Linked DNA regions of Homo sapiens. The protein of the gene in region 1 interacts with the protein of each later gene in a biochemical or structural test. Each region holds a gene or a part of one and is shown on either strand. Other genes may lie near its edges. The genes, in order: CHN2, ERBB3 and RAC1.

Region 1 (3,651 bases):
ACACCTTTACTTTCTTGAAGAGGAGGAAAGGGAAGTAAGCTAGACAAATTTTCTTTTGTTTTGTATTTTCCTCAGGAATGCAAAGATTAAGTTAGAGTACAAATGCAGAAGGATAACATTTTTAAAAGTGCCTATCACAATATTTATTTCCTAATTCCCTCTATCCTTAAAAAGTAGACCTTCCAAGCTGAAGCTTCTGTCCAAGGAAAGTGAGGTCAGAAGCAGCCTGTGGCTTTGTGTTTCAAAATCGCTTCTTAAAGGTGTACGGCAGTGATGGCCTGGAAGAAAAAGGCTTTCTGGCTTCCCAAATTTTGATTTTAAATCTCAACAGCTGATGTCTGGAGGTCTTGGAGCAATGCTCTTCTGAGTGAGGATGAATGTTCTGTGAATCCCCGGTTCTGGTGGGAGGGACTGAGGCAGAGCCCAGTCTCAGGGGGTCTAACTGGCCCTGCATAGCAGGTGTGGATTGGAACCGGGAGGCCAGTTTATTGGGGCCTGGAGCAGAGGTGTTGGAGCTTTGATAGTGAGGTCACTGGACCTAGGAACTTTGCGGAGGAGCCTCCTGTGCAGCCTGAGCCAGGTTGGAGAGGATGGGACAGATGGCCTGGGCAAAGAGCCCTGGGGGCAGCCTTGCGGATGGGTTGGCGGGTGGGTTGGCAGTGAGTGTGGGGGTGGGTGTGGGGGGAGGGACATGCAGCAGGAGAGTGGGAGGGGCAGACAGCATTGCCAATATTCCAACACATAAGTAGAAAAGACAAAAGCTGGGATGTCGAAGACACAGCCCGTGGGCCAGAGTAACAATAGCAGGACAGGGCACGCAGAGGGACCTGCCCCAGGTCACTCCAGGAGAAGGGACAGGAAAAGGGGTAGTCTCTAAACAAGGCAGTTAACCCAAAAGCAGCTAGATTTTTTTTTTTTTTTTTTTTTTTTTTGGAGAGAGTCTCACTCTGTAGCCTAAGCTGGAGTGCAATGGCGCGATCTCAGCTCGCTCACTGCAACCTCCGCCTCCCAGGCTCAAGCAATGCTCCTGCCTCAGCCTCTCGAGTAGCTGGGACTACAGGCACACCCCACCATGCCCGGCAAATTTTTTGTATTTCAGTAGAGATGCGGGGAGTGGGGGCGGGTCTCACCATGTTGCCCGGAGTGGTCTCGAACTCCTGAACTCAGGCGATCAACCCGCCTCGGTCTCCCAAAGTGCTGGGATTACAGGTGTGAGCCACTGTGCCCAGTCAAAAGCAGCTAAGTCTTATGTTTCTTTTTTAATTCTTGATTTTGAGTATGCATACTTTTTCTATTTTTATTTTTAATTGATATATAATTATTGTACATATTTATGGAGAACATGTGATATTTTGATACATAAGTACAATGTATAATGATCAAATCAGGGTAATCAGGATGCCTGTCACCTCAAGCATTTATTGTTTATGTTAGGAACATTCGAAAGCCTCTCTTAGCTATTTTGGAATATATAATAAATTGTTTTAACTATAGTCACCTAGAACTTAAGTTTTAATTCACTTGAATTGGCAAGTTTAAGTGATTGACAGCGTCAAACAGTGTCAATAACTAAATTAAATTCAATCATTCAAAAGAAGAAAATGACAATTTTGTGCACCTGAAGACCAGTCTGTGGCTTGTCATCCCCTTTATGCATCATTTTTAAAAGTCCAAATATCTCCAACCTATAATATCTAATATATTTGTATGACTGCAACTTGGTAAGAAAAAAGCAAGCATGCACAAAGACCAGAAAGAGATGAAGAGAAAAGGTTAGCAATGATTCTCTTTCATGGTAGAACTATGGGTATTTTCCCTCTTCTATTTTCCTTTATTTTCTAATTTTCCAAGTTAATTGGTATTAATTTATTAATTTTTTTTTGTACAAGGTCTCACTCTGTTGCCCAGGCTGGAGTGCAATGGTTCAGTTGACCTTCTGGGCTCAAGTGATCCTCCCACCTCCCACCTGTGGTCCTGAGTAGCTGGGACCATAGGCATGTGCCACCATGCCTAGGTAATATTTGTATTTCTTGTAGAGATGAGGTCTTCCCATGTTGCTCAGGCTGGTCTTAATCTCCTGAGCACAAGTGATCTGCCTTCCCTGGCCTCCCAAAGTGCTGGGACTACAGGCGTGAGCCACTGTGCCCAGCCATAATTTATTTTTAGAAACAGAAGTAATACCTGTGCACAGCAGAAAATTCCAATTTCAAAAGTTGAAGGTATAAAAGAACTAAAAATGCAAAATTCCTCTCTCCCTAAAGGTATCCATTGTCAATAGTTTCTTGTGATTCCTTCTAGGAATAAATGTGTATGTGCGTTTCCTGAATGAAGCATGTATTACTTTTTAAGTGGAAGAAAAAAACACCCTTCATTTTTTAAAAAAATAAAGGGAAACACAGAATCTGAAGGTTTTAGGCTAATTACCATCTAATAAAAGATGTTCCTTTTGGTAGTTAAGAAAACACTTCTTTAGTCTCAAGACTCTCATATGTTTTACATGAATTGGGGGTAAGAAGATGAGAATTAAAAAGTTATTTGACAAAACTTTTCTGCAAAAAGAAAATGCATAATAAACAGCTCCTTTTAGAATTCACATGCAAAAGTGTATATGGTAGGTTTTCATTTTCTTCTATTTTTTTAAATTAATTGTGCTATCTTCAAGGAAAAAACAAATAAGCATACTGAGGAAAAAAAGCCATACTACAACATAGATTAGACAGTAGGGGCATGGGGTAGAGAGGAGCGGAGGCCAGTGCCCCCAGGCAGGCATTCCAGAGGTGCTGGTCAAATTCCCAGGGTGCTGCGAGGAAGGTTCTGAAATGCAGCTGTGGCAATTAGGAAGGTGCACGGGGCTGGGACCCCTAAGAGGGTCATTAATCATGAAGATGAGGCTCTGACGGGTAAGGGAATAAGAGGAAGGTTTGAGATTGGCTGTGAGAGCTTGGAAGGTAGACTCAAAAGAGACGTTGCCTCACAACGCCTCCAGGTTGGACTTGGGAAGAAAAGTGATTGATGCATCTCCTCTCCCCTGGCCCGTTCTGCCTGCCCTCTGTGTTGTGCTGTACACACCATAGGCTTAGACTGCGAATTATTTTTATGGTCATGCGTATTTGCTGGGCAGTAGGTTTTGGAAAAAGTGAAACAAAACAAGAGTTGAAATTAAGAGAAAAATGGAAAGGGGAGTATTAAGGCAATTTGGCTACTACACCCGAGCCAAGAGATATCATCATTTGGGTTTTATGAGACTGCAGAGAAGTGGGATGCCTATCCTGACCACCGCACCGAGGTACACGAAAGTCAGGAACTCACATACAGTGTACCATCTTGGACACACCAAACGTTTCTATTGTGTTGAGGTAGAAAGTGAAATGAAACACTAACAGAGAGCCTCCATTATGAAAAATGCTGCCTTCCGTTTCAAGTACTTGCCAGGCACTCAGTAGCTCTTTTGTGGAGGGAAAAGTAGCGCAAAATGCTCTACCTCCCACATTAATGGAAACCAAGCACTTGACTACTATAAAAAATATTAATTCAAAGGAGTCTGATTGCATTTATTATCATTAAACTCTTGCACAATAGACATATGATGATGACCATATATTAGAAAATTTGTAATATTTAAATGACACATGAAATGACTACTTATTAAAT
Region 2 (3,651 bases), on another chromosome or scaffold:
AGTTGAGCAGCAGCTGTGGCCCCAGTGCCCCCCGGTGTTGTCTCACATGATCCAGCAGAGAACCCAGAGGCAAATATTGAGTGACAAGCTGCAGAGATGACCCTGGGCATAGTCCCAGCAGCCTTACAATGTGGGCATGGTCCAGGCTGCCAATGGCCAGCATATGCTAAGAGACACAAAAGGTATTATCTAGGAAACCAACAGGTTCACATACACTCAGCATGTGCACAGCCAGCCCAGGCCCCCCCACCCCCAACATTCTGGCTAACATAGTAGCTGCTGAGAAGCACAGGACCCTGCTTCTACATGATTGTATCTAATATTGTCCTCTCTCCTAGCGGCATACAGAATTTCCTTCACTTACATCTGTCACAGCTTGAAAACTCTGCCGTCCACTCTTGTCCTCAATGACTTTAATGCAGACTGGAATCTTGATTGATTCACCCTCAGGGATCCACACTCCCTGGGAAGTTTGGGGCAGGAGTTGGCATAAGGTCATTCTCCCTAGGTCAATCCTATGCAAAAATCTTTCACCCCTTTGCCCTAGATGCCTTCCCCACCTCTCCAGAATTCCTATGGGTCACTCACTTTGTGCACAGTTCCAAAGACACCCGAGCCAAGCACTTTAAGCTTCCTTAGCTCTGTCTCTTTGAAGATTCTGGCCAAGACTTTGTTAGCCTTCTCACTGGGGTCCAGAGGCTCTATGCTCTGAGGAGCAAATGGGAAGGAGTTACTCAGGAAAGGCCATTCCCATGTCCCACTCCAACCCGCTCCTCATAGGTGAATGCCAAAAGCAGCACAGCTGAAAGGGCAGGAAGAGGAAGCACCGTTAGTCCTGGAATGGATTATAGGCATATTGAGGTACAGACCCTGAGAACTGAGGAAGTTATTTGTGCTCATGAGATCAGGAATCAAAGGGGTTGGGTTTTCCCTTTGATGGAGGAGCACAAAGTGGGGAAGGGGACAGCTAGGGAGAGTTGGTAGTACTATTACCACCTTGAGTACCTTTTATACAGTGCTCTGTGCTTTCCAAAGCACTTTCACATACATCATCCCCCTTTACCCTTACAGCCATCCTGGAAGGACAAATGTTATTTCCTCTGTATAGATGCATAAACCGAGGCACAGAGAAGATAAGTAACTTCTTCAAAGTCATGTGGCAAATTAATGGCAAAATCAGGACTAGAATGCATGCCTCCCATTTCTCTGACCAGTGTTCTTCTAGGGGACCACACTACTTCCTTGAAGAAAGGGATCAAATCTCTGGGGAAAGAGGAGGGGAGTGACATTTATCCCATCACTGACCCCTGGGTGCACAGGGTACCACTCAAAATTAAGCTATAAAGAGACTTCCAGGACATGCAAAAAAAGAAAAGAAAAAACAAAAGTAAGCTAAGTACTCACCTCACCCCGTTCCAAGTATCGCCTCATAGCCCTTTTATTCTGAATCCGGCGCCCACGCCAGTAGAGAAAAGTGCCGCCCAGCATCATGAAAATCACTACCAATCCTGCTATCACTGTCAAAGCCATTGTCAGATGGGTTTTGCTATGGGATATATAGAAACCCAACATTATCCTGGGTTTGCATCTTCCTTACAAATGTCAACTATACTTGTGTTGAAGGTATGATGCTGACCTGGGGCAAGAAATTAACATTCACATATATATCCTTAAGCACTGAAGGGACCAACCTAAATCTGGACCAGTCTTAGACTACTGAAAGTTAATTTTAGGAAGGGAAGTCCAGAAGCCTGCATTCTTGAGTCCCAAGTGTCCAGTGATAGTGGACTGCATACATAAAAGGCCAGAATGAAGACAGCCTCCCTCTTCTCTCCAGGTAACCACCTCTCTCCCAACTCCCAAATATCCCCAGTTTCCAGAATCTCCAACCCCATCATACCCGATCAGCACCAGTGTTTGTCCTAAACAGTCTTGAAGCTCTGGTCCTTTACACCTAGGGAAGAAAGTCACCACCTTAAATGAGAGCTTGGACAGCAGAGGCTCAATTTCAACAGCCTAACATATAAAAGCTTGTTTCAGAACTTACCGTGGCATCCCATCCTGGAGCCCAGAGCTGATCCCAAGACATGGCCTCCACCTCCAGCTCACTAGCTCTCCCCAAGCCCCTCTTCTGTGAAACTCCCTTGAACTGAGGTTATTCCAGGTTCCCAAAACTGTGGTGTAATTTTGTGCTGTTACTGATTTTCCCTTTCTCCAATCCTTCGCTACACAGCTGGGAGTGATTCTTTTTTTTTTTTTGAGACAGAGTTTCACTCTTGTTGCCCAGGCTGGAGTACAATGATGCAATCTCAGCTCACCGCAACCTCTGCCTCCTGGGTTCAAGAAATTCTCCTGCCTCAGCCTCCCGCGTAGCTGGGATTACAGGCATGCGCCACCACGCCGGGCTAATTTTAAATTTTTGGTAGAGACAGGGTTTCTCCATATTGGTCAGGCTGGTCTCGAACTCCCGACCTCAGGTGATCCACCCACCTCGGCCTCCCACAGTGCTGGGATTACAGGTGTGAGCCACTGCGCCCGGCCAGCTGGGAGTGATTCTTGAATCACAGCCTCTCTCTTCTTTCTGCTTCCCTCACTCTAGTTCTGTGCTCCTACCCTTCCACCTGACCCCCTCTCCTTATTATCCCATCACTGACCCCTGGGTGCAGTTCTCATGGCAGGGCCGACATTCATTCTGAACATCTGGGTACTTGTAGATTGGGCCCTTGGCACCTAGGACTCCATGGGGGCAGCTGCTCACACAGTGGGGCCCATCTCGAAAATGGGCACATTGAGCACAAGTATCAGAGCCCTGAGTGGAAGAGAGAAGGTCAGGAAGAATCAGATCCCAAGGTCAATTCCATACCTCCCAGCAAAGACCAACCCAGACATTCAGGATCTTCTATCTGCAGGCCCTAGCATTATCTGGCCTCTCTGTGCTATCCTTAGCCATATCATTCCCCAGATGCTCCAAGTATTGCCCCTTCTCTGTCTCCCTTGGAGATCCTGGTGCTACTAGTATACCGAGCCATTGCATGTGGCAGTGCCCTCCATGGGTTGGCATTCCGGGTGGCAGGAGAAGCATTCGGCCTCATGGGCAAATTCTCGAGGCTCCCTGTAGTGGGGAATAAAGGGAGGGGGGGGTCACTTCCAAGTCCTGACCTTCATGCTCCGATCTCACAACCACAGGTCTCCTACCTCAATCCCACCAAGGCACATGCAGAAAGCTGTCTAAAGACTTTTATTGTATGCCACCTGAACAGTTCCATTGCAGGGCCCCACCCCCACCCATCCTTGACTGGCTCCCCTTACTGTACCCATTCAGAAAGTTGCAGTGGGTCACACAGACACCTCCTCGGCTATAATTTCGACAGGACAAGCACTGACCAGGGCCTGGGCCCCAGCATCCCCCAGAGGAGCACAGTGGGTCACACACTTTGCCCTCTGCCACTGGAAAGGAAGGGGTGGGTTAGGAGAGGAGTCTGAGGACTCCCAGCAAGCCCTCTCTTCATTATTCTTCCTCGTTACTGCTTCCAGCCTAACAGCCCCCTTCTCCTTGGTTCCATCCCTCAACCCTACTCCCACGTCTAGGGCAGAATAGTCCTTTCAGCCCTCTCCTCCCTGACTCCCTATTCTCACCACCTAGCAGACCCT
Region 3 (3,651 bases), about 23 Mb from region 1:
ATCGATTCTTTATTAGAATTTTGTCTTAACCCTCCGGAGAGATCCAAAAGCATACAATAGATTCTAACATATCTTCGATGACAAATGCCACTGAAACACTCCACGCTACCTGGTCAAAAGCAGGCGTTAAGTTCAACGATGGTGAAGACAGAGGTCAGGGAGATCCTGAGGGGGGGCAACAACGTGCTCCTCCTCCCATGGCAGCACCCACCAGAATCTACAACAGCTGGCACAGCCGGAGATGTTCTGCACTGTCCCTTACCGCAAAGGCAGGCGGGAGCCACGGGCACTTTCAAGTGCTCCATCCGAGTTCTCAGACACAGCCTAGTTGAAGCCACAGCATACAGGAAAAGGACCCGTCTGTAAATGATGCCTGCCAAAGGGCTCTCCCAGAACATAGCCGGGCCTCAGGGTTTTAATGCTGCCAGAACATTCCAAGTCTCCTATGCAGAAATGTTCCTATCTTCCACCTAGTTCTGGGAGACTGGTTTGAATGTACAGACTTGCATTATCAAAATCAGCACTGTTGCTGACACTAAGACCTCCAATTCTGGGCTACTTTGTAGGTCTGGGGGAAGCCACCCCTTAAGGACAAGCGTTTTTGAGACGGAGTCTTGCTCTGTTGCCCAGGCTGGAGTGCAATGGTGAGATCTCAGCTCACTGCAACCTCTGCCTCCTGGGTTCAAGCGATTCTCCTGCCTTAGCCTCCCAAGTAGCTGGGACTACAGGCACACACCACCACGCCCAGCTAATTTTTTGTATTTTTAGTAGAGACCAGGTTTCACCATGTTGGCCAGGCTGGTCTCAAACTCTTGACCTCAGGTGCTCCACCCACCTTGGCTTCCCAACGTGCTGGGATTACAGGCATGAGCCACCACTTTCAGCCATGGACAAATTTTAGAAGTGACACTTCCAGTGTTTATCACAATGCTGTCAATTCATTTCTTTGTTCCAATAAAAACTGACAAACTCGCTCTTCCAACATAGAACCCTGGAACTCTTTTAAGAAAAGCGCTCACGCCTCTAATCCCAACACCTTGGGAGGCCGAGGCAGGTGGATCACGAGGTCAGGAGTTCAAGGCCAACCTGGCCAAGATGGTGAAACCCTGTGTCTACTAAAAATACAAAAAATTAGCCGGGCATGGTGGCAGGCACCTGTAATCCCAGCTACTCGGGAGGCTGAGGCAGAGAACTGCTTGAACCCGGGAGGTGGAGGTTGCAGTGAGGCGAGATTGTGACACTGCACTCCAGTCTGGGTGACAGAGCGAGACCCTGTCTCAAAATGAGAAAATTATTTTAATTTCATCTCACTCAAGCTTTTCTTTTTTTCTTTTTTTTCTTTTTTTTTTTTGAGACAGAGTCTCGCTCTGTCGCCCAGGCTGGAGTGCAGTGGCGCGATCTCGGCTCACTGCAAGCTCCACCTCCCGGGTTCACGCCATTCTCCTGCCTCAGCATCCCCAGTAGCTGGGACTACAGGTATCCGCCACTGCGCCCAGCTAAATTTTTTGTATTTTTAGTAGAGACGGGGTTTCTTTTCTTTTTTTTTTTTTTTTTTGTTTTTGAGAGGGAGTCTCGCTCTGTCGCCCAGGCTGGAGTGCAGTGGCACGATCTTGGCTCACTGCAAGCTCCGCCTCCCAGGTTCACACCATTCTCCCTGCCTCAGCCTCCCGAGTAGCTGGGACCACAGGTGCCCGCCACCACGCCCGGCTAATTTTTTGTATTTTTAGTAGAGACGAGGTTTCAACGTGTTAGCCAGGATGGTCTCGATCTCCTGACCTCGTGATCCGCCCACCTCGGCCTCCCAAAGTGCTGGGATTACAGGCGTGAGCCACCGTGCCAGGCCACTCAAGCTTTCCTGACTTAACATTCAAAGAGCACATTAGTTTCCACAGCTATCTGGGTTTCATCTATGGGCTACTGTTGAAGATTTGTCCTCCCAAGGACTTCATATGGTGCCAAATCTTTACCATGGGAGAGGATCATCGAGAACCAGTTACAAAAATGCAGCTTCCAAAGAGCCTCTGATCGTATCTGTGGCATGCTTTCGATTTTTAAGAGCCTCTTTTTTGATGGAGAAGAGACACACACGACAGGAGCGAGCAGTTCCACTTTCCACCCGGCGTTCGTGCTATGCCATCTGCCTGTTCCTTCCTTGTTCCTTCTTCGTCCCCAGCTAAATATAGCTTCCCAAAACCCTGTCTAGTGCTTCTGGTACTCACTTCCTAGCATCCCCTCCTCCCGGCCGTCGCTGTCCTGACGCTTCACATACAGAGGCTGTGCTGGCTGACCCTGGCTGGGAGGCTCTATTTCTTCCCCGTCCTCGTAACACTCAAGAGGACCTGAGAGGGCACCACCGGTGTCTCTCCAGGGTCTCTCAGTTTCCTTCCTCACAGGTCACTTGTGTGTTCTGGAGCCTCAGGCTGTCTCCGGTCACCGGCCTATGTTTCCAGTCAACCTGAGCACTGCTTTCCCCTTTCTGACTAACCCAGACTCCCGCGTGCCTGTTACACACGTGGTGCCTTCAACGCCTTTGTTACTCCTGCATCACACACCACTCCCTCCTCGGTGGTAAGTGTAGCCAGGGCTGCTCTTCCCACAGCCTCCTGCCCACTGGTGGAACCATCCACAACAGATGGGTCCACTTTCCATGGAGTAAGACAGGGCGGGCATCTGGACAGCTGAGATCTCACTACAAAAAAGTAGTGTTGTTTCTACTTCGTTTTATTCTCTTCCAAATGCTATCCACCTGGATTTTACTTTCAAGTTTGGAATTTTAAAACACACAGACATTCTGGCCAGGCGCAGTGGCTCACGCCTGTAATCCTGTAAAAGGGTCAGGCAGCCCTGACGTATGAGAACCAGCCTGGCACTCGCAGCTTCGCCCTGGTGGAGGTGTTACTATTGAATAGAATAATCTCGCAGAACACTAACATCAGAGAAGGTCACCTGTGTGACTGTGCTGAAATAGGACCAAAAGTAAGTAAACTTTAAAAAAAACAACTCATAATCGTTTCTAAGTAGTGACAAATCCAAGATCATCATACAAACCACAAAAATCACCAAATATCCCCTGCTCCCGGCCAGTAAGAGTGAGGGCCGAATTCCCACAGTCCCCAGGTGCGTGTTTCCCTCGCGGCGAAGAGTAACAACTCTAGTTCTGCGGAACCACATGTGTGTGCCTGGTGCTCTCTGGCTGCACTTGTAACAGCCAACCTCACAAAAGCTGAGGCCTTTTGAAACTCAAAACTGCCAAGCTGAACACCACAGTTTTTCTTTTTATCTACCATCACAGGAGTCTAGCCCACCACTTTAAAACCTCTAGCACTGGCCAGGCGTAGTGGCTCACGCCTGTAATCCCAGCACTTTGGGAGGCAGAGGCAGGCGGATCACCTGAGGTCAGGAGTTGGAGACCAGCCTGACCAAAGTGGAGAAACCCCCGTCTCTACTAAAAATACAAAATTTGTAATCCCAGCACTTGGGGAGGCCAAGGCGGGCGGATCACAAGCTCAGGAGATCAAGACCATCCTGGCTAACATGGTGAAACCCCGTCTCTACTAAAAATATAAAAAATTAGTCAGGTGTGGTGGCGGGCGCCTGTAGTCCCAGCTACTTGGGAGGCTGAGGCAGGAGAATGGCGTGAACCCAGGAGGT

The links.
Region 2: the proteins of CHN2 (region 1) and ERBB3 interact in a test that uses a peptide from one of them, tested with the Homo sapiens proteins (one large-scale study listed by BioGRID and IntAct).
Region 3: the proteins of CHN2 (region 1) and RAC1 form a complex in vitro, tested with the Homo sapiens proteins (2 studies listed by BioGRID).

What each region holds. Positions count from the first base shown.
Region 1 is NC_000007.14:29,393,741-29,397,391, reverse strand, and holds part of CHN2 (beta-chimaerin), read right to left. Parts: intron 1-3,651.
Region 2 is NC_000012.12:56,093,560-56,097,210, reverse strand, and holds part of ERBB3 (receptor tyrosine-protein kinase erbB-3 isoform 1 precursor), read right to left. Parts: intron 3,448-3,651; coding exon 3,315-3,447; intron 3,113-3,314; coding exon 3,022-3,112; intron 2,810-3,021; coding exon 2,655-2,809; intron 1,955-2,654; coding exon 1,901-1,954; intron 1,547-1,900; coding exon 1,405-1,546; intron 709-1,404; coding exon 589-708; intron 464-588; coding exon 365-463; intron 167-364; coding exon 1-166. UniProt on the Homo sapiens protein: Tyrosine-protein kinase that plays an essential role as cell surface receptor for neuregulins.
Region 3 is NC_000007.14:6,394,941-6,398,591, reverse strand, and holds part of RAC1 (ras-related C3 botulinum toxin substrate 1), read right to left. Parts: intron 1-3,651. UniProt on the Homo sapiens protein: Plasma membrane-associated small GTPase which cycles between active GTP-bound and inactive GDP-bound states.